Linked DNA regions of Homo sapiens: region 2 is linked to region 1. The links come from fine-mapping of genetic effects on gene expression. A gene starts in region 1. The other region holds a variant in brackets. All regions are shown on one strand. Distances are from middle to middle. Region 1 holds the start of LINC02268 (long intergenic non-protein coding RNA 2268). Region 2 overlaps LINC02268 (long intergenic non-protein coding RNA 2268).

The links. PIP is the estimated chance that this variant, and not a neighbour inherited with it, causes the effect.
Region 2: its variant is the best candidate, but not a certain one, in a credible set for the expression of LINC02268 in gastroesophageal junction (GTEx, PIP 0.55).

The regions. Positions count from the first base shown.
Region 1 is chr4:174,209,954-174,226,418 of GRCh38, reverse strand. It overlaps LINC02268 (long intergenic non-protein coding RNA 2268), which reads left to right and starts at 6,021. Exons shown (of 5, transcript NR_125896.1): 1 at 6,021-6,105. RefSeq lists enhancers at 11,283-11,943, 12,054-12,113.
Region 2 is chr4:174,107,305-174,123,769 of GRCh38, reverse strand. It overlaps LINC02268 (long intergenic non-protein coding RNA 2268), which reads left to right. Exons shown (of 5, transcript NR_125896.1): 2 at 3,684-3,873. Among named protein-coding and RNA genes, the nearest start is that of LINC02268, 100 kb to the left of the region's middle. The variant C/T (reference allele first, on the strand shown) is at 8,779.

The sequences.
Region 1 (16,465 bases):
GGATGTGTGGTTACCCTACCCACGACTATAATACAATGTGATAAATGCAATAATAAAAGTTTAAACACTTTGCAATGGAGACATTTTGAATGTAACGCACCATGGGGTCAAAATTTGTTTCCAATCAAAAACATCACTAAATTATGTTCTAATCAGCATCCATGATAAAAACCATGGCGTTAAGCTTGGGATATTTGTATTATGCTGCACAGCAGAGCCCTGGCTCTGGGAGGAAATACTTTTCCAGCTTCTTGGGAATGTATTTTGTAGCTCAAAATTCCTGCAGGGGAGCTCATTTTGCAGTTTGGTCAATGCCATAAGGAAGCAAGTCTCAGAAATCTCTGAAAAAGTTGTAGAAATATTTCTTTGCAAAACTGATAATAAAAATCCAAATTATAGATCATATTTATCTTACATTTATTGTGCTAAGGGCTTTGTATTATTTAATTTATTTAGCCTGCAGAAGTATGCTCTGAGGAGATAAACATGACCATTTATAGAGGTCACAGGCTAGCGAGTCCTGGATCTACTGATTAATCTCGCTCTGTCTTTGCAGCCCTGAGAGGATAAGTGCTTTCCAAAGCAGAGGAGCAGTAAAGGCTGAGCCCGGGAGGCAGAAACAACATTGGTCCATGCACCATAAAATGTAAGCGCCATGAAAGAAGACACTGTTATATTCACTTCTCCATTCCCAGCACCTAAAAAAGCCACTAAAACATGATAAAGGTCAGGAAATATGTGAGGAAGGAAGGAACTCACAGAGGGAGATGGGTTTGGAAAAAAAAAAAAAAAGGCAGAAGCCGTATCTGGCAGGGCCTGGTAGGTAGTAGCAAAGAATCTGAATTCTATTTCAAGGGCAATAAAACATTACAGAAAGATTTTAAAAGAGGAGTCATGTGATGTGATGTATGTTTTTAAAACAATCATTCCTGACTGCTGCGTGAAGAGCGGGTAATAGGCTGGAGCAAGAGTGAAAGCCCGGAGTCCAGTTAGCAGGCATCTGAGGCTGTTCAGATGGAAGGTCATGAAGGCTTAGAACTGGGTGGCGGCAGTGGAGATACAGAGAACTGAGATGGTGCCATGGCTCATGCCTGTAATCCCAGGCCTTTGGGAGGCCGAGGTGGGAGAATTGCTTGAGCCCAGGAGTTCAAGACCAGGCTGGGCAACATAGTGAGACCCCCATCTCTACAAAAAATAAAAATATAAAAATGAGCTGGTTGTGGTAGTGCACACCTGTGGTCCCAGCTAGTCGGGAGGTTGAGGCGGGAGGATTGCTTGAGCCCGGGAGATTGAGGGTGCAGTGAGCTGAGATCACACTACTGCACCCCAGCCTGGGCGACAAAGGAAGACTGTGTCTCAAAAATAAATATATATATATATATCGCGAGAGAGAGAGAGAGAGAGAGAGAGAAAAGAGGGGAGGAGACGGGAGGGGAGGGGAGGGGAGAAGAGGGGAGGGGAGGGGAGAAAAGAGGAGAGAGGAGGGGAGAGGAGGGGAGGGGAGAAAAGAGGAGAGGGGAGGGGAGGGGAGGAGAGGGGAGGAGAGGGGAGGAGAGGGGAGGAGAGGGGAGGGGAGGAGAGGGGAAGGGAGGGGAGGGGAGGGGAGGGGAGGGGAGGGGAGGGGAGGGGAGGGGAGGAGAAGGGAGGGCCTGAGAACTCCTGGATTTTTGGCTTTAAAAACCGGACAGCTGCTAGTGCCCTTTACTGAAATGAGGAACACTGGGAAGGATAATGCTTAGAAAGAAATGCAAGGGAGTTTAGCCATTAATCTAGATAAATATAAAAACTAGTTAAGGATAAGATAACTGTTTATAATAACATATGAAGTAAAAACCCTAAATAAAATGTTTACAATAATTATAATTATGAAGAAAATGTATATTGAAAATTTTGAGTAGAAAATATGGTTACATGAAAACTTTGATGTATTGAGGAGTTATTGAGAAATTTGTGGTTTTAAAAAATTTTATTGAGTTCTGCTCTGCTTGTCATACTATTGTGAACTAAAAAGTAAAATTCTCGTAAAAGACAGTAAGTCTATGAGAAAAGCCTAAAATGATAGTAATCCAGAATAGAATTTCATCATAATAAAGTCATTAAAAAGTTGACATATTTTGTAATGGGAATTAAAAATAAAAACACTAAAAGCTCTATTTCTAGGTCCTGAAACCCAAAGCAGAATTATTGCAGTGAGGGTTGGGGGGAGGGTGGGTGAGATTTATTCCTTTGTTTAAACTAACTGAAGGTAAAATCCCTTTACATTTAAAATTGTATTAAGAATGGATTTTTTTTTTACTAGTAATACCTTGGCTTGATTACATTATGATCTATAAATACATTTTGTATGAATGACTTCTCCATGAAACAAATTGTAGTTATCAATCAGTAAATTTGTTAATTGAACTATGTGGAAGGCCCTGAGCTAAGCAGAACAGATATAAATTGGTGCTTGATTGTGTATTGAGAGGAATTGAGCCTGACTTAAAAGTTTTTCCCTAACTTCGAAAAATAGCTTCCCTACAACTCTGATAAATGGAAAACAACCACATCTATCAGAAACAACCCATATTTCCAATTTATGTATAAAATAATATATCCTTTGCTTATTCACAGCTGTTATCAAAACTCATGGCCAAATGTATAAACTCTGCTATGAGGCACACATTTTGAATGTGTTGAGAATTATCACAGCCAAAGTGAATATCTAAGGAGAAAAATTTCAGCTATAAACATTAAAATGTTAATGTTTTACTAATAATTATGTCCTTAGACACACAGTCTTGTTGGGGAGAACATTTTCACAAAGAAAAATATTTATCTCTAAAATCTCACTTTATTTATGTATTTTTAGAGAGTGGGGTCTTGCTATGCTTCCCAGGCTGCTCTTGACCTCCAGGGCTCAAGCAGTCCTCCTACCTTGGCCTCTCAAGTAGCTGGGACTACTGGTGAGTGCCACCATGCCTAGCTAATATCTCACTTTTGGATTAGAGGCTACTCATCTGAAAACAAAGATACAGATTTCATATGTTAGACAAGCACAGAAAAATCTCAAACTCTATATTTAAACAACCCTACAAGTGTTCTACATCCTGTATAAACCATTTTTCAAAGACGGAAAGATTTTTTTTCTTTAATCTCTTTGGGAGATCTAAAGATGCATAAAGATCCAATTTCATTGAGAGAAAGAACACAATTCTTTACCAAAGAAAAGGTGTGATTAAATGAAGTAATTGTGTTTCTTTGCTATAAATGTGAGATCTCACTTAAATGGTCTCTGAAAACAAAATACATGCATAAAGGCCCAATTTCACTGAGAAAAATATCACAATTCTTTTCCAAAGAAGAGGTCTGATTAAATGAAATAATTTTATTTCTTTGCTATAAATGTGAGATCTCACTTAAGTAGTCTCTGAAAATAAAATATATTCATAATTGCATGTATGTACATATGGGCATATGTGTTTGACTACTTATCAGCATGGATGTTATTGTAAGATGTTAGTGTTTTGGACACTAACCCCCCACATCAGCAAATCAAAGTGTGATATCTAAATTGATCTAGGTAAATTTGAATAAAATTGAACCAACGCTTTGTGGTCCTTCTGCAAAGCCAGATGTTCAGACCCTTAGGCAGATTTCATAATCCACACATCTGGGGGCACAGAGAAATATAGGGAGGAAAAGAGAAAAATCTCTTAAGGTAAGCTGGGGGATCTTGTAGATGGGCCACTAGGGAACACAGCTGGCTCTCTTCTTGAAGAGATGAGCCCCAAGCAAAGAATGCTTTGTAAAACTGAACACAGAGTGAATCCTGACCGTTAGCTATTAACTGTAGAGCTCAAAAAGAGACTTTACAAATATCATTACAAACAAAATATGGTGGAAATTTTCATAGAAAGCCACATTCTTTGTACCAAATTTTGCTCTGCAATAGGCAGTCACTTTTGCACACCTTGCCACCTAGTGGATAACCTGAAACCTACAGGATTTTTCCCCTTAATTTCCATGCTCTGCGGAAAAGTTCCCCAACTCTACCAAGGGAAGGTTATTTTGTTTGTTTTAGTCATTGGTGCTCCGAGAATTGTAGTAAACAGTCAACAAATAGTTGTTACATTAATAATAAACATTAAGTTGAGGCATACTTCATTTAAAAACTATTGTTATGGGGAATGTAATGGAAAAGATAGACAATATGATGTTGGCAAAATGTGTTTCCTAACTGAAATGAAAGTTTTGAATTATTTCAAAAGCAAATGCTGGGGGATCTATAGTTTCCTGTTAGAGATGTATCTACATAGCACATCAGGAAGAGGAGCCGGGCGCGGTGGCTCAGGCCTCTAATCTCTGCATTTTGGGAGGCCAAGGCAGGCGGATCACTTGAAGTCAGGAGTTCAAGACCAGCCTGGCCAAAATGGTGAAACCCCTGTCTCTACTAGAAACACCAAAATTAGCTGGTGTGGTGGTGGGCACCTTTAATCCCAGCTACTCAGAAGGCTGAGGCAGGAGAATCTCTTGAATCCGTGAAGTGGAGGCTGCAGTGAGCCGAGATCATGCCACTGCACTCCAGCCCGGGCAACTCCAGTCTGGTCAACAGAGTGAGACTCTGTCTCCAAACAAACAAACAAAAAACAAAACAAAAGCAAACAACAACAAAAAGAGATGTCATTATTGCTCTGTGTAGACAAATCATCCAGATAATTTAATTTAGCCATTGAGAGCCTACCCTTCTTTCTTCCAAGATATCCCAAATAAAACTAACTGTAAAAGCAAATATCCTTGCTCCTTTGTCTAGACACCATTGCTACTTTCATTCTTGCTTTGGGCTGTGATGCTTGCTACTCCCTTTTTCTGCTGTCCCAAATTATGAAGCCCTTTTATTCATTTAAAAAGAATACCTATGCATATGTATAAATATATATATATATTTTTCCTTTTTCTAAATAACATTTTATTCATTTTGACCATGTGACTCATTCGTATGGTCAATGAGCCCAAGGTGTTGATGACTCTTAAACATGTTTCTCCTAGCATAAATATTGGTGGCAAAAAGCAGAATAATGATCATAGTTTTGAAATAGAGAATACCATTAATGTCTTTGATTTTTGAAAATGATATTTTAAAAAACAAACATGACTATGTCGTGATACCTTAAAATTCAGGCTGAAAACAATTTATTAGGTAATCCACTTCAGGTTTCTTTTGCAGGAGGATTATTTTCCATTTTCTTATGGATTATTTTCCATTTTCTTGCTAAAATCAGCAAAACATATATACATATAACAATATACCACTAGTTCATTAAAAGAACTTATTCTTTTTGTTCTCAAATCAAGCTCATTTTAGATTGACAATATCTTAATGCATTTTAGGAATATATTGTCAAGATTAAAATCTTACTTTTTATTAGCTGAAGTTGTATATATTCATTATATAAAACTGACTTATGTTGCATAGAATTAAAACCCTCCCCAGAGTTCATAGTTTTAAACAAATATGCATACATATCCAAATACATATTAAATCCAAAGCAAACAATAACTTTATGTTGACAGTGAAAAATGCAACCTTACATACATAGTCTACAAAACAACTGAAAAATTTTAAATGCCAGATATGAGGAAGCCAAAGAATTTTAACAATGAGAAATATGTTATGAATTAAAATATTCAATCTTGAAAACCTTTAAAAGTGAAAGTTGCACTGTAACTGCTTTCTAAGGTAATTTTTGCCACTTTTAGGAAAAAAGATGTTTACGTAACATTTTTAAAAGTACAATCATTTCTTACATAGCTTTATGATTGAGGATAACATTAGTATGCACATACAACATAACACACAAAAGCAAAGCTTAGAATAACATTTTAATTATGTTTTAGTGTATGTGAAATAATTTGTTTTTCTCAATTATATTCCTGGGTCAAGGCCTAAAACATTTATTTGAACCAGCTATATATCTTATTTTCATAAGGGTCTCAGGAGGCAGTAGTCATATGTTGTTACTTCAGCCCTCCACAAAGGCAATACAGTACAGATCTCTGTACTGTAAACGACAACAAGGACCAGTCACAATTTCAGTTCTTGTTACATTGATAAGACTCCTTCAGGTAAGAGATTAAAACATGCCTTTATTATTATAAGGTTAGTGACCATTTTAATGGAATAAAAAGATTATTCCTGTTGCATTGGAGATAGGAAATTTGGGATGTGAATGTATGAGGTAGGTGTCTTTTCTCTCTTGTGCCTGTATTGTTCAAAAGCTCTTTGACATTAGAAAAAGGTTAGCTCTATAATCTTAATATTAATATTTAGTATAAAATCTATGGAGAACACACATTATACAGGGAGCCAAAAAGTTCAACTCTTTTTTTAATGGAGAGAAGGTAAGTAGGTGATCTTCACAGACTAAGAGGTTTTGCCTTTTAACACCAACAACATAATACTATTTATATTTGCTCTATCATTGTGATTAACCTACCTTCCCCTTCCAAAAAAACACACTTAGCTTACTCACCTAACAGTAATGACATATATCATTTTAAAAACAAAGAATAGTTTCAAAATTAATTTTTTCTACCTAATGTGCGTGACTGATGTTGAAAAGTTAGTGAGGGTTACCCATATATTCACACATGTAAATTGTGGAAATAAGAGAGAGAGAAAAAACTCAACAGATATAATCTGTAAAGCTGTCAAAAGACTTTCAAATAGCGAATTCCTTCAGATCATATATTTCAATAGAAGTTGCTGTTTAAATAGAGGTCTCTCATTTGGTGGGAGGAGCTTTTAAAAGAAAAAATACTTGAAGATAAGTAATATTACCTTTGCCATTTGTTATGAAATAAATATATCATGAGGAGTTATGCTTCATTAAAATGTAATACTTATAGATGACAGTTTCATATGGTCAGATATAAAATGTATATATGTTTTACCAGGAAGATTATACAGTATTTTTAATCTTGATTTTTCATGACTTCTTGCAAATATGCATTTATTGCTTTCCAAACCATGCCTGGGAATGAAGGAGAAAAAATTGTTTTATCCGAAGAGTTAGCTGTTCTTCCTTGGTTCAATCAGGAGTAAGTTCTGATATCATAGAGGGGAATGTATTAAGATAATTCCTAAAATATAACTGTGCTTTTACTGTTTTGCCTATGCTGCCAGAAAGTTAAAAACATTTTGTTTCAAATAACTGTGTATGTTTAAAAGTCAAACCTATTATTTGCTATATTATTTGTCATGTGCTATAATTTGACAGAGGGGCAATATTTCTCCAAAAAGTAAAATTTTATAACCAAAGGCCATCAATTGTACAAACGACTAAGAGAATTAAATTTTATTAAGTTGGAAATGTAATTTATTCATTGTAACTGTTTTAAGAGAAATTAAGTGAGCACTTTGTATGTAGTTATCTTAAATGTTACGTGTATTCTTTTAGAAACTCTTTCTTGTTTTCCTTCTTTTCACCTTCAGTGTCCTGGCACGCGACTAGCACAAATCAAACCTTATCTGTCATAATAAACTATAGCGTTGGAAATTCTAAAGAGACTAAAAATTACTTAACGTCTTTAACATATTTGAAGTAATATTTATGAATAAGGGAGGGCTGTCCATTTTTGAGTTTCGTCGCGCCAATGGTTGAGGGATTTTCTCATTATCATCTCCTGATTCCCAGAGAAGAAAGCCAGCCGCGTGGCCTTAGGACCCCTGGCCACCGGGAGTGGAGGAGCGGAGGGTCTGCCCCAGCTACCCCTGTGGCCACCGCCTCTCCCTCCAGGTGTGTGTGGGGAGGGGGCTGACAGAAGCAGGAGGCGACTTGCTGAAGTAGGGAGGCCAGACTGAATTTTTCCAGGATTCCGGGACCTTATCTCTAGGAAGCACTTAAGGACTTACTATCGCATTCTTTATCTCACTGTCTTCCGACTGCCAGGCTGGGTGCCCAAACTTTGGCGGCTTTTTCACAGTTTCAACGGCAAGGGTGGGAGTGGGGCTCGGGAGCTGGAGAGGAATGGCACGTTACGCCCCGTTCGGTTTCAAGGCCATGATTGCATCGCTCTCTGGAACGAAGATGGCCAGGAATTCGGGCAGGGAGAGGAACCACTCAATGGCAAAGTTGGTAGTAACGTCGTGAATTGTAAAGAGGGATAGCCCTCTCCTGCAGTCTCCAAGCAAAACCTTTTTCGCAACATGGGTGCCTGTCCAGCTTAATTCTTTGCTATCTTTCTTACTCGTGTTTTTGTTAGGGGACCGTTATAAAGTGAATTTTTGAACTGCTGGGTTGAGAAATAAACAGGGAAGGAACTGGGAAGATTCAAATTAGCTTCCACCGACCCTATTAGAGGTCCCTGGGCAGGAACCCCCCTGGCCACAAAATGTCCCGCAGGAGGTCTGCCTGGCGGAGGCGCTGCCTGGCGGAGGCGTGGGCTCAACCGAGTGGGCGCTACCACCGCTGGCTTCGGAGAAGCAGCCTGCGGAGAGCGGTAAACCGCAAGGGAAGCGCTTCAGGATCTGATTGCTTTTTAATAAAAAGATATGTTTGTAACCAGATGGAACCATTCTGGCTCCTTTATCGAGAGCGCAGCTTGGCCGCTTGCCTGGCCCTGGGGCTCTGGCCACAGCCTCTGCTGGGTTCTGGAGGAATTCAGATCTAAAAATAAATGATCGGGGATAATTCTTCCCCGAGGCGAACGGCTCGAACTCCCCTCCTCCACCCGCCACTGTCACAGCAATTCACCTTGAACTCTAAGGCGGATCGTTCCCACCTCCGCTCAAGGGGCCTGGACGCGGCGGTGGCTTTGCAGCCTCCTGCACCCGGAGCTCTGCTGGGCATGCTGCAGCCAGGACCCGCACCAGACTGCTCCAGGCGCCCTTAGGGTCCTGCCGGCTGGGTGGAAGTCAACACACTTTCAGTTAACCGAGGGGATTGAAATTGGATCCAATGAGGGAGGAAAAGCTGAAATCCCTGCTCTCTGGAGCTGTAGAGCACCAGGTGGGGAGACATTGCAGGTCAGAGGATAAGTCCTCTGCATTAACTGCGGCGCAGTTCCCTGTACGTCTAGCAAACTAGGTTTATGGTCTACGTGGGTCACAAGCGCATAAATCATTGTCAGCCCCGACAGTAGGTGCAGAGCTCTCTGCCTCGCTCTGGCCACACCAGCCTTTAGACAGGCTAACTGAGGGGGGGGCTCGGCGCGAAATTTCCCAGCCTAGAATATTTGCCTCGAATCTTTCTGTCCAAGTCTCCGAGACAGCTCCAGAATATGCGCTTGCCCTTTTGATAGACCCGCAAAGGGCGCGGTCTGGCAACCAAGCGCATCTGTTCACTATGGCCTAATGATTGTCCTGCAGTCAAAGAATCCAAGAGGGCATCATCTGATCTTATTTTATGCGTGAGGAAACCTGACGCTATCCAGGTTAAAGTGACATTGCACGAGGTCACACAAAGCTCTGGTAAAACTCCTTGATCCTAGGTTTCTTGATTCTCGCTCTCACACCTGGCCCCATCCATCGTCCTGCCTCAAATATCCACTGTGTTGTAGAGATACCAGGATCTGAGAATGCCTGTAGAGAAGGACTCATTATTTGTTGTCTTTGCAATTTACTAGTACAATTTTCAATATGATAATTTCCAAAGTCCCAGGAATGTACTTCAGATCTTCTTCCTCATTCTACCTCACAATTCACATAGGAGGAACCCCAGTGGCAGCCAGATATCGGGGTTTTAGACACCCAGCTGCTTCAGCCACTGAGCCCTGGGTTACCAGCACTTAAACAAGTCAAGAAAAGGAATTCCTCGCTGAGCCGGGAGGACTGGGAGAGATGGGGGCTCGGACTTAGAGAAACGCTGGAGAGAGACGAGTGGTCAGGCAATCAACTTTCACCTTCTCACAAGCTATTAGTAAAGGGACTGTTTTTTGTCCAGCAAACTCTCCCCTCAGGCATGCAGGGCTTGATGTTATCGTGATTACTTTTCGCTATTCACATTAATTATTTTAAGACAACACACACACACACACACACACACACACCTTCTCACTTAGAGTCAATGCCAACTTGAGCCATTTCAAATCGTTAGTCCTCTTTGTGAATGTGTTTGCATTTTTAAATCTGGGTTAGAAATTTGGCAGTCCCTCAATTATTCCTGAAGTGAAAAGGCCACAAAGTGGTCTCTTCCCTTCTTTTTTTCATTCAACTCTCTCTCTCTCTCTGTCTCTCTTTCTCTCTCTCTGTCCAGGAGTTGAAAAGAGAAACTCCAACCTTCAACTGTCAACTGTTTTCCAAACATCAGATTAATGTTCCCCAGGACTCGGTAGTAACGTGACCTTTCTGTTTTCAGATGTGTTTTTCAACATGTAATCGTTTGTTTGTTATGTCTCTCATATGGAATAAAGAAAGCTGGGGGAAGGAGTGTGGGCTGCCAGAGGCAGGAAAAAAAAAAAAAAAAAAAAGGATGTGGAGGCTGTTTTTGTTCCTTCTTCAAAATGCTCGAATCATTTTATTTTTAGGCAAGTAGTCCCCAAGGGAGGAAAATCTACAATACTCGTCCTGAAAAGAAATCCAAGCACTTGATGAGCAATTATTTAAACATAAACATCCCCAAAACAAAAATCTAATAAATTGATTTTAAAAAACATCTTGCAGGAGAGGAATTTCTGGGATGCAGGTAACGCTCTTTATCTTGATCTAAGAAATTCCATAAGAAGGTTTTAAAAAATAATTTATCAAACTTTTCATTTATGCCTCATGCCCGTTTTTGGACGGTTACACTTAAATTACCATTTTTTTTTTAATTTGAGAAAGGAAACCTCTAACGTGTGTATATTACTATATTCTACATCTTAGTTCTAATAAATTTCCAAACCAATATATTTATTAAACGATTAAGAACTTTGCCACTAACTTGTTTTCTGAGTAATAGGTTCTGAATCAAAGTGAAAACAGTATACTTGAATTAGTTATTCGAAAACCAGCATAATTATTTCATCACTTTCTAATATAGTAAAATGTCAAATATGCAATGAGTTTAAAGTTTGTTTTACGAAACCCCAAAGAAACCAAATAGTTATTTTGTTAAAAACAAAAGCTTTATACTTAAAAAAGAAAAAGTATTAAGTTGGTGCAAAAGTAAATGCGGTTTGTGTCATTTGAAAGTAATGGCAGAAACCGCAATTACTTTTGCACCAACCTAATATTAACTTTTTTTTGAGACTAACTCTTATTAGAAAACGTTTTATTCCAAAGAGGAATTTTAAAAAGCCATACTCAAAGGTGAATTTCTGCTACTAGAAAGATGCCAGTTTTAAACTCCTCCCCACCCCCATAAAATATTATTAGGCCGCTTTCATGGTTAGTGACTAAGCATTTTACCAAGAAACCAAAGACTAAATTGCTCCCCTCAATTAATCAACAGCTTTTATCTCCGGCATCAGCTTCACTAATGACCTCACTGCGGCCCTCCAATCCTTATTTTGTGCTTTCCCTTATCACCGTCTTCCAAATCACCCCAATATTTCTCCTGCCCCGTTCAAGTTAGAGGCATCATGATCCCCATCTAGAAAGCAATTTCCTGACGACTCGCTTAATTATCGCCCGCTCCCCCGCCCCCACCTTCCTAGCTCTACTTCCCTAATCGACCCTTTATCACCCGGGAACAATCGCTAAGCCTGAGCTGCCCACATGGAGGCTTCGCTGCTGCTTTACTTTACAGGCCCTTCCGCGGTTTTATGATTGGTTGCTGTGGTTGGAATGTTTATAGATAATAAACAACTAATCCATTTCTTGCCTAATGAATTGCCCCACCCGCGTACCAGTTTAACACCCGTAACTAGCTCCAGGATCAATCTGCGCCAGCGACCGAGGGGATGAGGGGGGCGAAACCACCCAGCCTCACTGCCGCTTAAAATCAAAGCCGAAGAACTCTAGGTCAGCAGACACCTATTTCCCATTTTCCAGTTCCTCTCCTCCGCGACCCCCCACCCTCAGCTAGGGCTCGGCGCCCACCTGCTCCTCTGCCCACGGTCGAAGGAGTGAATTTCAAAAGTGCTTTTCTTGGCTTCTAAAAATGTGAGAGGGCGATCCGCGAGCTTGGGCGCGCTGCCTGCGAGACTGGCGCGCCCACAGGAACCGGCACTCAGGTGACGGGCTGAAACTGGTGCCTGCAGCGACTGCTATTTTGGCCCAACCAGCCTCTTCAGGCTTCGGCGGTACACGCCCCGGGGGTAGTTACAGTCCTCCTGGCTCTGATGAGTCTCTGCCCGCGGAAGATCAAAAAGGCTGAGGTTGGCAAGGGCGTTCCTCCCGCACCCGACGGCTGAGAAGGAAGATGGGCAGGATAGGTAGTGGGGAGGGCACAATCTAGTTAACACTCGGAATCCTGTCTGAAATAAAGGAAAATGCATGTTCAGACTCCCAAGAGACCCGGAAAACGCGGAGGATCTGCCAAAAGCATTCCAAGAAGAGAAGAAACCAACGCCAGGGAGAGATTCTTTTATACACATTATGGCAGCTGCACATGGCTTCCGTCAGTAACTGGGGCCAGGGGGTGTGAGGACGGTGACCGGGAGCCAAGGAGAGGGCCACGGGAACCGAACACCGGAGTCCCTATGGTGTTGCGCTGTGGGAGTCCAATGTCTAGTCCTGGAGCCTCCGAGAGCGCGCTGGTGGTCCTTTGGGACCTTCCCTTTCGGTAAGGACCCAGAGGAGGGAAGTCGAATAGGAATGGAAACCCGAAAATCGCAGATAGGTTCGCTTACTAGAGCTGTTTCTAAAACCCACTTAACAGCCAGCTGAGCTTTCAGTGGAGAGACTTCCTTTACTTACACAGTAGTTTGAAAGTTCTGCAGTTTTGTGTTTATAGATTTAATTTTAGAAAGCTAATGTGTATGCCACCTTCCAACTGAGCCCCCTGTTCCAGGATATCTTCTTTCCAAGATCCCAGAGAAGGACCCTCAGAAGCACTCTCTGCGGCAACGCCCCCATCTTATTTACCTGTGATTTTACTTCCCTTTATTATAAAGAGTAGGCGAAGATGTCGTTGGGTCAGTACTTATTTTACCAGGTGGCCAATTCTTCCCAAAACTCTGGCAAAGAGCACTTTAACCCCTGTCTTTTCCTTCTTTCACTAATCTTGGCTGGGAAATTCCATTTTTCACCGGGGTGGGTGGGTGGGGTGCAGTGGGGATGGTAGTGTTGCTTCTAATGTTCTGTCATTCAATTCACAAATATTTACTTGATGCCTACTGTTTTAGACACTGGGGACACAGTTTAAAGACACACATGCACACAACAGTTTAAAGACACACATGTGCGCATACACACACACACACACACACACACACAGACCCTTTCCTAGAGCTTCCACTCTAGAAGGAGTCTCAGGTTAACATTAGGACTCACTTTGGGCTGGGAGCTGAGAGGATGTGATTTTTAACAGAAACGTAAGGAACAACGCCAATCATCTGGTCAAAACTTTTCTCTGTGTCACCTAAGAAGTATCTTCATTATGTGTAGTTTAAGTCATAGCCTTTCCACAATGTAATTGATGTGCTTAATAGCAGATAGCACTCTCCACACCTTTGTGCTCACAGAGGCTATTTTCATTGCTGGGGTGGGGGGTAAGATGAAGGGTACTCCAGGCCATTCTCAACTGGTGTTGGTCATTGTTCAACTTATGAAGTCAACAATTTCAGATTTTTAGTGTCCTGAAAATAATCTTGGCCCCCACATCTTCAGTAACACAATGCCGACTTCAAGACAAAAAGCAGGTTCTGTCCCTCACTGAGAGAGGGATTTTTCTCACTCCATCAGCACTGAGCTTGGATCTTTTACTTACCTGAGGTCTCATTCTCCTCCTCCTCTCTAGGGGAGTAGGAGTTGCCTGGGAAAGAATTAGCAGCTCCTGAAAGGCAGGTTTCTCCATGCATTGACTGATTTTGCTGGAAAGTTTTTCCATTTCTCTTTCTCCACTGAAAGTCTCCTCCTCAGTGAGAAGGGAAGCTGCCCATTGAACACTGGGGCAAGGAAGCTCTCTGGGCCTTCTTAACTACACGGGCCACTCTTGCTGAGCACAAAGATACAGATTTAACTACCCCTTAACAAAGAAGAGAATTAAAAATGACCCACCAAAGAAAACTAGAATAAAAACAAAGGCAAAGCGGCCACCGCGAGCTGTTTGATTATTTTCTCTGACTTTGCTCTTTGATTGGAACCTGCCTCATCAGAAATAAAAATAAATAAGAACACAAAACGTTGATTGGTTCTTCATCAGTGAATGTGTCCATGGCTGATACAGAGAGAAAAGAAAATAAATCCTGATTGCTTAATGAAAAGAAGAAAAAAGTAATTTGTATAAATAGAGCTTTAGAAAAAGGAACTGAAGAACCGCGCAGGAAAAGGCTGCCTGGACCAGCGGGACATTCGCTGACGCGAGGGAGCTGGGGATTCTGGAGTGAGTCTTTGCGGAACCCGCGGCAGCCCTTAGAGAAACTGAGCCACAGATCAAACAGCAGGGAGCTGGCCTTAATTTTATTTGATCATCAAAGGATCGGATAACTCAGCAAGGCGTCGATGTCTGCATTTTAGGAAGCACTGAAAACTTTAGAAAGGTGTTTGCACTTCGGAGTGGCTTCTTCTGCACGTGATGCACAAAAGAAAAGCCTCTTACCCGCAGGAAAGTACGGCTGTTCCTGTGTCTTGACCGTGCCAGATCCGGTAGACACCGTGTGAGCGCTATTGACTGTCCAGCGACTTGCGGAGCTGAGAGCGTAGTGGTGGTCACTTCCCTGAGAGGTGGTGCCTACTGAGCTGGGGACCCAGAACGCTACTCTTCAGCCTCAAGTAGCATCCTGGAGGTCTCTCTGACAAGGCTGAGAGTGTTCAGGGATCATAGCCTGCAGAAAAGGGAGAAAATGCGTATGAAAGCACTTTGTCAACTGTAGAGGATTAGATGGCAAGATTACCATGCGCTTCTGAAAATTTCATATATAAATGCAGGGACAATTGGTAAGAAAACAGTAGGTAGAGTTCTGGTTTCGTTTCATTGTCTCTGTCCCATGTCCTTTAGTTCCCACTGTCATCCGAAGCTGACGTTTACTGAAACTTTACTTGTAAAATCCAGTGTTTCTGCTTCCTTTTTCTTTTGTAAAGTTAAGCTGCTCATAAACTTGGCTTCAGAATTAACCAGGAATCACTCTCCATTCAGAAGCACAAAATTACCATTTGTACAGAGGTATGTTTAAAGGAAACTTCCTCTAGTGTAGGCCTGGAAATGTGGACTAATAATTCACACATAGCGAGTCACAGCTATGACTCCAGTTTACTTCTCACGTTAATATAATGTAAAAACTAGCCACAGTAGGATTTTTTCTCATTTCATTTAAAAAATTGCAAAAGTTAAATAAATGCTCTGCCCACATCTTGCTGCAGGGAGAATATAATTTGAGAAATTATGGCACATTTCACTTTAGCACCTTAGATGATCATTTATCAATAATTTTCTATGCAAAAATAGAGGCACTAAACATCAATGTGTATAACAAATTTTGTGCAGACCTTTGAAAACTTTCTTGCATGGATTTGGGGCAGATTATAATATTTTATAAAACAGAACTCGGGTTGAATATTTTAGAAATTATTATTGGTGTTGGTGACAACAGAAGGCTTTTAGAGTAAGATTCAGTTAAAATGAAAAGATAGTTGAAAGGATCAGAAAAATAAAATACTTATAACAGAGAAGAAAAATCTATGTTGATCTGGAAGTAGAAGCTTGGCTGACCAAGGGAAGGGGTGGAGGAGAGCCTTCCCCTTTACTAGGGATCAGCCCTCCACTCTCTTGGTGGCAAGCCTCAACTGTCAGAGCCTGGGTTTCCTATCACTGCCCTCTACTGCTCAGGGTTGCATTCCTTTTCTTCACCCCTCCACTGCCCTGAGCTTCAGAGTACTTTACAGTTCCCTAAAGTGACAACCCAGGGAGCATTTTTTTTTTTAAATCCCCTGATCCACCAAAACTTACTAGATTTTCTCCAGGCCTCTCGAGGTCCCAAGAGCTAATAGATAAACTTATTCGTATGGAGGTGCTAATGGATGGTTTAATGTGTTCTCTGGTCCACTCTGTTATAGCTGCCCTAAAACTAATGTTTTCAATGCCTTTAAAAAGATGGGACTAGAAGTAGAAATTGTAGGCAGCATTGTTTACAAGGGGAAATACTCAGGGGGAGGTTGCTTGTAAGGGACCTTTTCACTGCAATAATATCTTGTTTACCTATGGTGAACTGGCCAGGCCATCTCTAGTAATGAGTGAATTCACTTATCCTCTAAATTAGTAGTGAAATCTTTTCTTCAAATGGAATGTTACCTGGAAGTCTAATATATGAAATCAATTCAAAATGACTACCTTGGTTGAAAGGAGACTGATGGACCTATTACTTTGTAAACTAGGATAATATTAATAGCAGCCAATCACTCGCA
Region 2 (16,465 bases), 100 kb after region 1:
AGCAATGCATCCACAAGCAACCTAATGTCAGACAAGCTAGCTACTAGTTGGATAGAAAAGTGTGAAATGGCTCCCTTCCTTCCATATTAAACTTGCTGATGCCTTAATAAACACCACCCCCCAAGATTGCTGTTCATTCAGCTTTGTCTAGAAATCCAGTGACTGTAATCACTTCATTATTTCCTCCAACATCTGGAAGGATATGTGGATATAGACCATTATCAGAAAGATGATTTTACTGAAAAATAATCTTAATGTTTGCTTATTATAAAGATGCATAGAATCTGGAAAGTGCTGCCAAGTGTTTTTCCATCACAGCACCTTTTAGTTCAGAGAGTTCACTTCAAACAGAAGTCAAGGGGCCATTCTCCTGTTTTTTTCTACCCATCTGCCTACTCCATCCCTTGCTCCAAGGTCCTGGCTTCTGTTTAGTAACATGCTAAGGTCAAAGGCTCTGAGACTTTTATTCTTGGCTCCATTTATAGGAATAGATAAATTCATCCTAGGAACAAGCTCAGGTTGTCTTTGGAGATTTTTCCAGAGTGAACTATTCGAACAGTAAAAATATCAATGACAATGAAACAAACATCTTTCTCTAAATTTTACCATGTCTAATTGTTTAACTTCAGTGTGTCATTATGCTAAAAGTTCTTCCTTACTATGGGTGAAGAAGGGAAGGAATGAAGTGTTTGAAGGAAATTTAAAATTTTGTCCTGCCACATAATACGCTGGAAATGAAGGGAATAACATCCTCTGATTCTTGCCTCTGGCCTCACTGAAGAGACTTCCTAGCTGTTGCCCAGCTATCAGAAGTGTTTCATAACAGTATGAAAAGAATTTTGTTGTCCATACTCTAAAAAAAGCATGAGGAAAGCAATGTTTTGTAATAGTTCCAAATGAAGTAGAGGCTGCTCCCTTTGTGACACTCTACTATTGAGAATCCACAGCTCCTTAGCAATGAGACATAGGAGGAAGATAGACTCATCTGGTCCCAGTATTAATAATGCACTGTTTAAATTAACACAGTACATTCAGTTCAATCAAGGGTGTTAAAGTGCCTACTATATGCTAGTCATAGTAGTAAGTCCTAAGTTTAACAAAGAAAAGGTCCCTGCCTGCTGTAATTAACAGTCTAGTGAGATAGAAAGACAAGTAAACATATCATTTAAAGGCTTAAATAGAGGTGTTATAAGGTACTGCGTGAAAAAATGAAGTGTTTGGATATGTTTGTATGCATGTCTTTGGGGGAGGTTGGAGGCTTAAAGGATGTCTGGACAATGTTAAGAAGGGAGTTGAACAAAGAAACAAATACATTGATAAGCATGTTCTAGAAAATTCTCTCTCTTATATTTGTGAGTTTGCATCAGGGGAATGTCAGCAATATTTACCATGAATCTAATTGCCAGTCCCTCTGTGTGTTCATAGAATGCTAATGTGTGTACTATCCCATTCCTATGCTTGACCCATTTATTTTCTAATCTCCAGTTTGGAGAAGGAAATACTAATTTTACCCCAAGCATAATTTCATCTGTGACACACTGTGTTGTCAACAGTGAAGATGCAATCTGGGTAGAGAATATAACCTTAAGACAGTCTTCTTAGAGCAAATAAACATGTTCTTGCATTAACCACTTATTCTCTTTGGAGAGCTAATTACTCTTCCCTCAGCTGGCTGGGGCTGAGGGTGAGGGGCAAGGCTTTGCTGCAGAGAAAGTCAAATATCTGACTAAAAAGACTTTTCATCTATGTATCTGATACTTTTTAAACAATTTGCATCAGCTAAGTGTTATGGGTTTTCCATCACATTTGGAATAATGAAAATATTATGGCTGGGCACGGTGGCTTACACCTGTAATCCCAGCACTTTTGGAGGCCGAGGTGGGTGGATCACGAGGTCAGGAGTTCGAGACCAGCCTGGCCAACATGGTGAAACCCAGTCTCCACTAAAAATACAAAAAATTAGCCGGGCGTGGTGGTGGGCACCTGTAATTCCAGCCACTCGGGAGGCTGAGGCAGGGGAATCACTTGAAGCCAGGAGGCAGAGGTGGAAGTGAGCCAAGACTGCACCATTGCACTCCAGCCTAGGCAACAGTGTGAGACTCCATCTCAAAAAGTAAATAAATAAATACATAAAATAAAATAAATAAAAAAGAAAATCTTATATTTTAAGAAAATTTTATTTCTTTTTGAATTAAAACAAAATGTTCACACTTTAGTCGCTAAGTTACAAGGACAGATTAGTTAGTAGGAGATTATGTATTCTGGATAGCCCAGATTAATTGTTGCTTTTAATGCCCTTTCTAAATCTGATTCACAGATGTATATCATTATGGATGTATATTATTAGTGAGAGTGGGAGAAAGGGGCAATTATACTTCACAATGTCTGAAAAATATTGCTACATAATTCCAAACTATTTCTTTTTCTCTTGGAGGAATACTTTACTTGATTTCAAAGGGGAATTTGTGGACATTCACGTAAGTTAGAAAAATACATCACAAATATGCACCACTGCAGTTCACAGAAGTTAAGAATTGTAATCTAGGGACTCTCAGCAGCAGACATCCAATAATGCAAAGCAGTAATAAAGAAAGGCTTGCAATGAAGCACGGACTCTGTAAAATGTGACTGGAATGAGGCTGAAAGTGTAGAAGGCATGTTGTGTCATCCGGCGTTTAATCAGTGAAGATGGTGGCCTGACTTTGTCACAAGGAACTGCATTAGATAAGAGTACCCTGATTATGTGGTCTATTGCATACTTTGAAACATGGAATTGAAGAGCTAAGAGTTCATCTATTCTGGCCCTTTATGGAGGAAACTGAGCTCCAGGGTGGTTAAGTGACCTGGTCGAAAGAGAAGGAAAGATATCCTGCTTCTGACTTCAGGGCTCTTTAAAGTTCATCATATTTCTTAATGCCATTGGTGGATGAAAAATTAAAACATAGACCTGGTATTTACATTTTAACTACTGTGTAGTTTGCCAAATCAAGATTCCACTATGTTAATGAATTCATCTGATTTTCTAAAGAAAGGCAAAGTCGCTTTGTCGAGTTAAAAGGAATCAACTTAATTTCCGCCACTAGGTGGCATGATGCATTTTTTTTCCCCCTCTGGACACTTTTTGAAAAGGAATCTATCCCTCTCCCTACACCACACACACACACGCACGCACGCACACACACGCACGCACGCGCACACACACACGCGCACACACACGCACACGCCCGCGCACACACTCTCTCACACACACACAGAGATTGGAGAGAGACAGGAGAGAGACATGTTTTCATCTATCCTTTGTGGACTTCTGTTGTTTTTACTGCTGTGAAATTTGACTTGCGATATCTGCTTGTAAAACATCATCAAATCCAAATTCATTATATTCCACTTTTTCTATTACATGGTTTCTGCTTCACTGATTCATATCTGTTTTACCTATTCTGTAAGGGAGGAGAAGCTGCGTTAGGTTTCATCTCTTGTTTAAGTTCAGTTTAATAAATAGTAGATAATGCCTCTTCTCTTTTTTCCTTTTGAAGAGGAGAAAAAGGAAAGAATTGTAGTTGATTCTTATGTAGCAACTTATTCATTCATTCAGTAGCTATAGAAGCGAATTGTTTTGTAGGTAATTATTAACGATGCTTTGGATAATTCCCTAGCTAACTATTCCTTCTTTTCCATCCCAGAAAGCAATGAAGAGAAAAGCTGAAGTCAGTGATTAGGAGTGTCTGTGTAAGTAAAAGCAACAGGCAATTACTGAGTGTGGTGTGAGAGGCACGGAAAGATTGGGAATTCAGCAAGAAGAGGAATTGAAGTCAAACCTCACCTACTTCCCAGAGTCTTCTGGATTTTCTGTTAGAAGCTTCAGTATCTGAGGTAAGGAAAAGAAACTGCAGGACTTACAGAATATACCCTTTCCTTTCCATCCTCTGTATTACTTAATAGGTATTTTGCTTTGTTTTCATTTTTTCATTCCTCCTCTTATCTTCTGCCTTAATTTTCAACTCCATATTACTAAGTGGCATGGTTTTCAAGTTTTCTGTACAGTGTTTTACTATTTTAAATAAAAAAAAATTTTTAGTTTTAAATTGATTTATTTTTCTTTTAAAATTTTAGATTCAGGGGCTACACATGCAGGTTTCTGACATTGAACCCATCACCCAAATAGTGAACATAGTACCCAAAGGAAGTTTTGCAACCCTTGCCCTCTTCCTCCCTCCACACTTTTGAAGTCCCCAGAGTCTACTAAGAAACATCTTTTAGAAAGTAAACAAGCAAATACTTTTGTGGAAGAGCCAGACACTTCAAATGAATTTTGTTCTCAATCCCATCAACATGGGTTTTTAAAAACACTAATACACAGAATCACTCCTGACCAATGGATTCATCATCTCTGGGGCTGAAGGAGGGGCAATTGTATCTTTTCAAAGATCTCCAAAATATCTTGATGTACCCTGAGAATGGAGACTTTCTGAAATGCAGCAATATGCCATGTGTCATTTTTTTCCCTTTAACCAGCATCCTGGTCTTGCGCCATTTTCCTAGTGACTCATGCTTGAAACACAGCCATCTTGGTTCTCCCCTCTGTTGTTCTTGTGTGTAGTTAGTTCCTAAGTTCCGCGTCTTTCATCTCACTAATGTTTTATATCTTTCCACTTTGTCACATCGCCATTACCATCACCCCAATTCAAAGTTTCCCACCTTTCTCTTTTCAACACAGATGTATTTGACTTCTTTTTCCGATGTTTAAATTTACAATTTTTGTTACACTTTGGAATCGCAAAATAACAAGAGAAAAAACATTAGGAGAGGAGAAAGTGATATTATCATGAATAATAAAACTCTTGTTTCATGTGTAGCACAAATGAAAATCACCCCCAAATCTTTTTCTTCAAAAGGAAGGAAAATCAGCATCTGAGAGGGTTGAAAAATAAGTTCATTTTTTTCCCTTGCAAAGTTACTGAATTGCCACCTACTGGTTTTACTATAAGAGTAAGAGCTATATATCTCTTGTTCATCATTGTATCCCTGGGAAAAGCAAAATGTCTTGTTTTATTAATTAAAATTTTATTAGTTGCAAGTAACAGGAGCCATCCTGACATAGCTTATACAAAACAGGTAATGTATAGTTAAGCTATAGAGCACAGTGGTAGAATTCAGGCTGGTCTAAGGAAATAATTGCAGACAGGCCATGGAGAGGCTTCAGGGTTTTACGTTTTGGGGGTGCTTATTTTATTTTTCCTCTTTGCTCTATACTTTTTTGGGCTTCTTAGGTCAATGTGGCATTACATAGCTGCCAATGCTTTCAAGTAGGTAGAGTACAATTTCAGTCATGAGCTAGGATGAACTAGCTATTTCCTAGCAACTTGCCTGGGGACCGGATCTAACTGGCCCAGCTTGAGTGAGATAATGTACTCTGGTCAAGTCAGCCACAAGCTTAGGCACTGAGACTATTGTCGAAGGTCACCCCTTACGAATGGGGAGTTAATGTGAGCTGGGAAGATATCCCAAAGGTGTCTAATGCACTGACAAATGGCAAAGATGCAACAGATATTTTGGATAAATAAATGAATAAAATAATAAATGAATGAACCAAGAGACTGTTAGTTTTGGGTAGCATAATAAACTCAGATTGACAGATAAAGAGCAATTCATTAGGCATCTACTTATTACCAGAGGCTGTAAGGAATAAAAGCTGAAAAAAAAGAGGAGTTCCTGACTTTAAGGAACTTGTCAGAAGAGGTATCATTAACAAATAAGGAGAATATAGGCAGTGACAAGAAAAACACAAAATATTATGTATATTCTGTCAACTGAGAGATCATAATTTTACTTACATTAGTTAAGATATTGTCAGCTGCTGAGGAACTGAGAAATCTCAGTGGATAAACACAGTATAATATTTTATGCTATGTAAAGTTCAATAGGACGGAGGGCTGGGTTTGGGGTTTGGGGTGAACAGGAGGGCAGGATCTACCGCATGGAGCCATCAGGAACCCCAGAACTACCACCTCCAGCACGGACTTCCGCCACGATCATACTGCCAATCAAATGCAGCCAGCACAGTGAAAGGAAATACCCATACAGAGGGTATAACTACTTCTGCGGACAGCCCATTGGTCAGTCTACTTTCACATGGCCATACCTTACTAAAAAAGAAAGCCGGGGACTGTAATCTTGCCGCATCCAGGGAGAAAGGCAGTAGTGTTTTGGGAATTGCTAGCCAGTGACCACTATAGCAGCATTGTAGTTATGGCAGAGTGGGTGGGGGAGGAATAATTTTTAAAAAATTATGGAAGAAATGCTATAGTTAGACCATCTTTGAGGTGTAGGTCTTAACTGTTGGAAAGAGAACAGCAATTTTTGAAAGAAAAAAGTAATGTAGGCAAAGATCTGGAGTTGGGGAATAACTATGTTTTAGGAGTGTTGAATATGAAATAGCTGTCTTGAAAGTATGATAAGAACTGAAAAGGTAGTTATCTTTATTTGGCTATTTCTTTTGAACATATCTTTCTATTAACTTCAGCACATCAGTTTATTTTTCCAGGAAGTGGATTTTGGTTAAAAATTATGCTGATAAATAGTGAGGAGAAACAAAAGTTTGGAGGAAAAGTAATAAAAACTTGATATAAGTATCTATACTATTTCTTGTCTTCCTATTCTGACCTTCTGCATTCTAAATTGAAACAACCACTCTAATTTTCTTTGTAAAATATCAAGTTGGCTTGAAAATTGTGTGTAACAGCAATACAAATGTAGTTTTCAAAAGCGGGGTTTAAATCAATAAATATTAATATATTTTTATTTTTATTCCCTGCATCTCTTCTTTCTTAAATCAAATATATTCAGACTAATGTATTCATATGTTAATATTATTTTTTTCTGGGATGGCATTAATTTCAACTAAATATCTTAAGAGAGTAATGGGAGGGTTTTTTCCTTCTTGTTCAGAATTTCTTTTAAATCCGACATCTGGTATTTGGCACTTGACTTTTACTAGACCAATTGAGCACTTTTAAAGGGGAATAAATCATATGACTTTCATTTTAATTTTTACTGTAATGGTTTAATGCAGCCAACATATGCTGAGTAATAGTATTAAAATAAAATCAGTAAATGAGGGATTAAAATTTGCCTGAGTTCAGTTTTGCAAAGACACTAATTAGAGAAAGGTTTTTCAGATCAGAATTGGATAAGCCAGCAATTTTTTAAAATTGTAATAATATACTGAGAAATATTTGGGTTTGAGCATGCTGTTATTGAGAAGGAAAAATTACAAGGGAAATTAACACCTTTGCTCTAATGCGAGGCTGTGGGGTGAATCTGGGAACCCTTGCATGCCCGTTTCTCCACTGCCAGAAAGTATCCAGACAAACACTGAAGACCAATCCACATTTGCTTATTTTAAACAGAGATACTAACTTGAAAACTGGAAATATTTGAGTTGGACTAAGCAGGATGGAGATTTCTTGACATCATAAGGAGCATTCATTTAAATTTCTCATTTCAGAAACTTGAATACTAGAAAGGCTTTCTATCCCACGCCTTACTTTTTGGCAGCCAGCCAGTTATTTTCTATGGTTCTAGTTATTGGGGTACGAAACAGTTTGCAGAATTAAGTTAGAATTTTATTTATAGCTTTGAAACGTCTAGCTAAATGTTCCTAAATATGGTACTTCTTGGTAAACAAATAAAAGCGAAATTATTTCTACATCAAAATTGAGCAAGGAGAAAATTAATGGGCAGTATTTAGCAGTTTCTTTAAATTTCCTTCAGTTATGAATAGCATAAATAAGAAAATTAAATGGGTTAGTCTTACTACAGAGACCTTAATTCTAAATACTTTGGGTTCATATATATGACCAATTTAATTAAAGGAGGTTTTGACCAGCAACCTAAAACATGCCATATCATACTATAAGAAATGGGTTTTCTGACTTGTTAGATAATCTGGAAAGGTGTTGTTCTGATTAAAAGGATAAAAGGCTTTTCTGTTCTGTGAGGTATAAAAAGGAATTCTTTCAATATCATGAATAGAACCACTCATGTCACGTTCACTTAGTGGTTTTCAATAAATAAGGAACATGATTGGTTGCACTTTGCTATTTTTAGACATTCACTGTAGTATAATTTCTTTATATTACAGAAATCCAGAACAGGATAAATCAAATCACCGGTTCAGTGTGCTAAATTAGCATATTCAGCTCTTGAAGAATTTATGGAAAACGGCTTTCAAAATGCAAGCATGTCTTTGTTCTCTTATATTTCTTCAAACCAGTCTCTCATTCATTTCCAAATATCTAACATTTCAGATTCATTTTTGCTTTCATTTTTTGCTCTCTCCTTTTCTAGACAATGCCAAGCAGACTGGGTAATATAGGAGAAATCTCAAGAAGTACCATGAAGTAATGCTCATCTCAAGACTTCTGCTGTTTGCCAATTTTATTTCTTTTCTTCTTATTGAGATAGTAATTCCCACTATGAGATTCATTAGAAATCAGGCATTAAGGTTGGAGTCTTTCCTTAAAAGATATTAATATACACAATAAGAAAGGAGGTATTGAGGCTGGTGTGTTTCTTCTGTTTTTCAACTTCTTTTTTTTTTTTTTGAGACAGGGTCTCACTCTGTCATCCAGGTTGGAGTGCAGTGGCACAATCTTGGCTCACTGCAGCATCCTCCTCTCAGGCTCAAGCAATCCTCCCATCTCAGCCTCCCAAGTAGCTGGGACCATAGGCCTGCGCCACCACACCTGGCTACATTTTTTGTATTTTTGATAGAGA[C/T]GGGGTTTCACCATGTTGAGCAGGCTGGTCTCAAACTCCTGAGCTCAAGCGATCCACCTGCCTCGGCCTCCCAAAGTGCTGGGTGTCTTTCAACTTTTCTATTACTTTTTGTTTGTATATTACTCTTGGTGAAACAAAAAAAATTGTAAATTGTAATATATGTTATTTGTCCTCAGGAGTTTATCATGAAACAATCTAGGAACAAACTAAAGCTAATAGTAAGTAGAGAAATTAAATAAAACCACCTAAAATAAATGTGATACAGATACTAGCCAGGACAAGGGGGTTCCGATGGGCAGAAGCGTATAAGTCCAATTTATGTGTAGAAGTCGCTTGAGTTGGGCCTTGGGTTATAGTATAAATCAAGAGTGGGTATCTTCAGATGTAATTGAATGGATGTAACAGAGGTAAAATTTCAAGTACCGTAATGACTAATATGGCAGTGACAAATTTTGGGGAGGCTAGGGTACCACCTTAAGTGTGCCAAGTCATGAAGGAAATGCTTAAGTTTGCTTAGCATCTTTCCGAGACTCACACAAGGAGGATTTGGAAAGATGTCTAATACAACCAAAAGAGGAGAATCAAAAGATCAACAATGATTGCTTTAAAATGTTGGCTTCTGCCAGTGTTGCCCCAAGTATATTTATCCCTCTTCCTTTCTACTCCTCAATTTTCAGACACTTTGATGAAACAGAATAAAACTGTACTTTTTTTTTTAGATATTCCTATGCATTCTACTGCTTTAATCCCACCTAAGTAGAGATGTCCACAACAGAGAGAATGGAGCTGTCACATCGTTTCAACTGCCCAGGTAGTTCCTACTGGATGAATGGGATTGTCACCTTCACACCTGCTAGAGGCTTGGAGCATGCAAGAGTTTTTTTAAATGGCTTCACCTTTCTTATGAAAATGCAACCACTAGTACTCTTCCAATAAAAGCTTTTCTCAAGTGTGAGTATACACTTGGCATGGAATATTTTAGCTATTTTCTCTCTCAGGACTCATGTTTTATTACATAGCATTTAGTCTCAACATATGTGGATACATATTTTCTTTCTGATAGTTATTATGCTTTTGTTTCTTCATATTTGTTTTATTCTTGATTTGAAAAAATTAATTTCAGAGAAACCTCCAGACTACACGCAAGCCAGTGCAGGCATTTGATATCATGAAGCTATGAGAATTCCCAGTTATGGGAAGCCCTGATGTCATAAGAAAATTAGACCAGCTTAGCTCAGAACAGTTTCAATGAAATACATTCATTTCACACTGTATTAATATAATCCTTGTATTACTTCTTTTTATCAGTCTCACAAGTCTTAATTTTTCCAGTCAGATATAAATAAGACACAATGCAAAAGAAAGCTTAAAGAGGGAGAGGTGAGGAGATTCTTTGAGGCCAGGAGTTCTAGACCAGCAGGGCAATATAGTGAGACTCTGTCTCTTAAAAAAAAAAGAAGTAAAAATAACAAGAAAGCTTAAAGAATGGTAAATATCCCTTTAAAGTACATTTCTTCCTATGTCAGTCTCCAGGTTTTCTATCCTAGTTGTCACTTATTAACTCAGAGTGTTCATATTTGTGTTAAATTGAGGAAAGGTGAAATTCATTCTGAGAATAACTATTCAGACATTGATAAAAAGATTTGTTCTCTCTGGGCAACATTCTAGGTCAGTGAATTTAGCATTGAATAAGATGTTATTTTGTATTCAAATAACAGCTGTATCTGGTTTACCCCTTGTGGCGCAGTGAGGAAAATTAGGCAATGTGTAAATATAATTTTTGTTATTTACTATGCTACATATTCAATTAGCTTGAAAACAAAAAACAAACACCAAACCACTCATTCCACCGTATAGCCCAGAGCTACCATTTCCCTCTCTAAGGGGAAGAGAACCTAAGCATTGGCTAGGAGCAGCTGCAATTAGAATTTCTTTCATAGACTTTCCTGAAAACCCAATAAAAGAAGTAGAAAGGAGAGGCTGGGCCTATTACATTTATTGGAGGCCCACAGCCTGGTTTCTATTAAGTTTGACAGTATTTATTTTTGAAGCTAGAATCATGTACTTACCTATGATTGCAAACATTGTTTTCAAAATATCAAATAACGAATGTGCAAAAACTGAATAATAATGAAATGGATGGAAAGTGACAAAACGGAAATTCTTCTCCCCCACAGCAAAGGCTCAAAAATTCCAGAGAGTGGACAAACATGAATACTTCCTGTTTCACTGTAAAGGTTTTTGGTGCTTAAATTTTAAGTCTCCATTTTCAGTCTGTGATTGTCTATCAATTATATTTAATTAATGTTTTTATTACAATAATATTGTGCCATCAGTTACAAAATATTTTATAAAACAATGCATATTCGTGTTATTGCCTTTCAAGAAAATTCCAGAAAATTCATAGGGATATTCCCCTCAAATTTTAATGTTATAACATTTCCCGTGTAATAATGTGTCTTAAAAAGTTGCCACTTATAAAATAGTTTTCCCGTATGACATACCCAAATTCTGGGTCTTGTCCAAACCTTTATGTTTCTGTCCTACAACATTTTCTCATTTGATAGTTGGTCATGTGAAAAAAACATGTTATGTTTTCATGTTATGTTTCTCTAAGTAGAAAGATTTTTCCAGTGAACAAAATCTTAGCTCAATGTTCCCAGTAAGAGTCTGAACAAGCAATCTTGGTATGTTGTAGAACTTCAAGTTCTGTTATGAGCAGAATTTCCTCACAAATGTAGCAAAATTATTGCTCTTACTTTTCAGTTTTTCTTGTCTTTTTTTTTTAATGAAGGACTTGAAACCACCAAATCTTATTTTCTTTCTTATGGATTCTATTAATTATAATGCATATTTGAAAATTGAAGCTTTGTAGTTATTAAACTACCTATTACTTCTGATGTTACCTTTTGGACAAATGGTATTCATTTAATTTTGGGTTCTGTGAATTTTTGATTTTACAAGAACCCTTTGGCTTTAGAAAGAGAATGAGAACATCTCTGGATTCTTTCACCCCTTTTTAACGGTGGGGCTCCGTGTACTTTCCACTGAAGGAGTGAGCATTGTCAACTAGTTAACACAAGCTATTGGAAAAATCCCTGAATTTTGTATGGGAAGAATAATTGCACACAAATGCACTCAGGAATCCTATGGAAAATATAGTGCTGTTAACTGGCATGGTTACAACACAATTTAGCAAGTATGTTAGAACAAATTACCCCCTTTAACCATAAGCCATTCTGTTTCACGCTTCTTAATGAAGGCCTGTGCCACACACTAGAATACTTCTCACCTCATTACTACTCATAAAAAGCAATGATCCATTCAAAGTCTCCTCATATCTCCCATATGAGTGGTAAAGAGCTTCGCCTCTCATTCTGGCAGGAGGACAGGGAGGCTTCTTCCCAGCCTGCCTTTGAAGTAGGTCATTAGAATGTTTACTAGATAAAAGGACTCAAAAATTTATCTGTGTAATCTCACTGTTGTCATGTGTTAATGTTCTATCCTTCCTTTAAAAACAAAACAAAACAAAGCAAACAAAACCCAAAGACATTTCTGTCCCTGTTTAGAGAATACAGGAGATTTGTAACACTCAGTGCAATTTTTCTCCTGCAGTATTCACAAGATATTTTCAAAGAAACTCTAAAAAGCAGGAAGAATTTAATGGGCCACTGAAATACAAAGTATGGATTCAATAAAAAGGCAGGAAGAGAAGCAAGCTGATAGGCCAGTTAAGAAGAAACAGTCCAATTTTAGAATTAAACAACTTTTTCTCTCCACGGAGTGTCATCAAAAGGAAAATAAAGTTGAGTATCCTTGGAAATAACATTGTATCGGTTACTAATGAACACGATTTTCATCTAGACTGAAATATTTTTCCCCTATTAATTTCAGGGACAATATATAATACTACTTAAGATGCATTGTGCGTGCTCAATAAAATTTGAGCTGAATGCATGCTTTTTAGATAATGATGATAAGTGGAGAAGGAGGAATTTTTTCATAATTTTTTTGAAGACATTCTAGGTCTAATCCAACTATAAAATTATGTGTGTATATGCATGTGTGCATATATATATATATATATATATATGCACATATTTTAACATCTGACTGTATAATAAGAATGAAAAAGGCTATAGAAGAGTAAACATATCCGAAAATACTATTTAACAACATTAGAGCATTTCAATTAGCAGGAGACATATTTGTCATCTCCATGACATACGAATTTCCATTTTGGCTATTAGCTTAATAGTATCCAAAAGAATAGCAATGTTTGCAATTCAAGAAAAAGCCCATACTAGGTACCAAAACAGTTTGAAAACAAGGTACTAATATCTAACTTCTGTAATGCAATAAAACACTGAAATCTGACACAGATTATAAATTTAAATGGTGTTTAAAATCAATTTCTTTGTAGGAAAACTACACTTAATATAAACTCTCTGATGACATTTCCAACCTTTCTTTGTGGTATCTCTGAAAATTTATCTCATCACCTGATGCAGTACCGTCAAACCCTACCCAACACTTACGCTGAGCAGTTTCTAAATTAAATTGCTATTCTCCAGGCGCTTTCCCAGAAACGCAAGCTCACGTCAGATCACACTCACAATGCTACAGGAGGGAAATGTTGGTACTGTATTTTAATAGGCCAGGGGAAGCACGTGCTCCTAGAGACCAGTCGGCCCCTGCGATAATAACTGCACAGCTTTGTTTCATTTGAAAACATACATCTGTACACACGTACTTACTCAGACATATATCCATGTATACAGAAAAAAGTTCAGCTAATAACAAAAGAAAGGATGAACATTGGCACTGTAGATGTTGACAGCATTATGCAAACTTTTCAATATTCCCTTGCATGCTCAACTTTAACTTTTGTTTATAAATTCCACTTAGACATAATTTACAACTTCTGTTAACTTAAGCTGGGTTCTGTAAATCTGTCTAAAAAAATCAGGGCAGAGTGCTTTGAGATGTTACAAATATATCTAGATATCAAACATTGAGCTGCACAAATTGTATCCACTTTGGAAACTCTAAGTTTGTATTTATGTCCATAATATATTTTAGTTCTGATGTTTTTAAAATGATGAAGCAAGTCTTACTCTTTTTTTCACCCTGCCTTTTCCAATCCTTGCTGAAATATCTATGAAAGAGACTTATGAGCCCAAGACAAATAAAATGAGAAATTCTGGAGGTTGTCACGATTTAAAAACACTTTGTAAGGTGATTTGAGGAGAAAAAAATACAAAAGTCAGGCAAAATTTCTTGCTAACTACCTGAAATTTGTAACTTTATTCTAGTATAGTTTAAAAACTTCAATACATAAAAATGTTATAAAGCTTTGTATCTGTTATTTCACCCTTGCAGAGCTGTTGCAGAGATCTTACCTTCTCATCTTTTTTTAGAAATAGTTGAAATGTCAGAAAAATCTGGATTAAAAGAAAAGGATAAATCCCACCTCTTTAGTAATTCTTCCTATTTATAAATTGCTTTTGCGATCAAAGACAGAAATTGAAGCTCTTCTGAGAGTTTGAATTTTAAAATAACAGAAAAGCAAAACACTTGGCTTCAGTTTTTTTCATTTTTTTTTCACTTTCCTTGAAAGAAGCAGCTGTACTTTTCACTCTGCAGTTTTGGGAAGAATGGAGAGTCCTGACTGATGCCCCTTTAAACTGAAAAGAGAACACTTAGCCAGCAGCATACATTTACAATAGGCTTTGGTTGGAGTGAATTACTCTAATTTGGGGCAGGAATTAAAAAGATTAAGTGAAAAGCAAAATAATGGAGAATAAAACAACTTGATATACTTTAATAAAATGGTAGTTTTTAACTATGAATATACAGTTGTAAATCAAGTATTAATATTAAAAAGGGGGGCAATTCCATATCAAAATGCAATTGGCTATGCATGTGGAGACTTTCTTAAAGAGAGTGTCAGATTCAATTGCATTATTTTCCAGTGGTGGAAGATAGCGGTTGATAAAAAGGTATAAATTGACAGGTAATTTTATTCAGAAGTAAACTTATGCTTCTATCAAATTTAAATTGCTTAGCAACAACCAGAATAATTTCGACTGATAAGGTTATTGTCTTTTCTTCTGCTGGTATGTTGCTGTCTCTCATATTTCAGTGATAATTCTCCAGTTCACGGCTGTACGTGTGGATGATCAAAGAGAAGCATTTTAGCTCATGTATGGTACAGCTTCCTTTAAAAGTTTGCTCCAGCATTGTCCAAGCCCTCTTTGGTGACCTAAATACCCTCCTAGGCTAGATTACTCATTTCCATGGCTTCAGCTACTATCTGTCCTACCTAAGTTTTCCAAACTATATTTCTAGATCACTTATGTCCCCCAAGCTCTAGCCCCTCTTCCTGCTTGAATGCCTTATAGGCGTCCCAAATTAAACTTCTGTTCTTCAACCCCTCCTTTCTTACTTGGAACCCTGTATTGGTTCATGGCCTTAGCACCCACCTACTTGCTCCGGTGAAATCTATGAGTTGTCCTTGTTCTTTCCCTTTCCTTCCGTTTCCAGTGTAATCCATCACAAATTCTTCAGATTTTATATTACTAAATAACTGCTACACATCACCCCAGTCCAGGTCACTGCCTTCTCTCACCTAGACTAGGGCAACAGCCTCCTGATCTTACAACAGCAGCATAAGGATGAGATGCTGCTGGCAACAACGAGGTAGGGGTGATTGCAGGCTCCTTTGAGTTTTTCCCGAGTATGCAGATCACCCCAGCAGGAGCTCTTCACCCTAATAGCAGTGGGCTCCAGCCTCCCTGCAAAACCCAAAACAGCCTCACTGTGTCCCCACAGATACCATCAGGATCTGTTGGCCAGAGTCCCTTGCTCCGAGGTCTAGGTTCCAGCTCTGGTCCCTCCTCCAAGCTTCTAGGTTCTAGTAACCCTATTCTCTTCTCCTTGTACTCCTAGCCTTAGGGATTCCTGTTTCTTGAAGTTATAGTCTTTTGTTGTCTCATGCCTATGAAGCAATTCTCAATTCTCTTTGTTAGACTTACCAATGTGGTTTTCCTGTTTCTTACAGACTTTGGCCGATAACACCCTCACGGCTCCAGACAGATAGGATTTTTAAATTCCTCAGACTCTTTATCGTTCTGCTTCTTGAGTTTCCCACACTCAGTTCCTTCTGCTAGAAATGTTTTCTGTTCCTGTTCTCCTTTCAGCTCTCTCACCCCTTAACTCACAGCTTTTGCCTAGGCAACCCCTTTTGGAATGCCACTTCCTCAGGGAGACCTCGCCGACCCTCTAGACCAGGTTGAATCTCCACTCATCCTTCCTCCTCCTCTGAAACCAATCACACCACTTTCTTGCCTGATGTCCGTCTTCTCTCCTGATTTAAGCAACAAGAGGGCAGAGAACATATTTTGTTCCTACCCAGTACCAATTTCTATGCCAAACATATTGTAGGCAATCAATGTTGATTATTGATTAAACTTAGTTTCTTATAAGCAGAAAAATATTGGGTAAAGTTTTTCAGCTAAGGATATAATTTTAGATTTTTTTCCCTTCTCATTTTAGCAATTCCAGGTATATGGGCAAAGAAATGTGAGACTTTTTTTTTTTTTTGTCTTGTAGGGACTTTATTTCACTCATAATCTCCGTCAGGGCCCCCTCCAACTCCTGGTACCAAGTTACTCTAAATAAATAT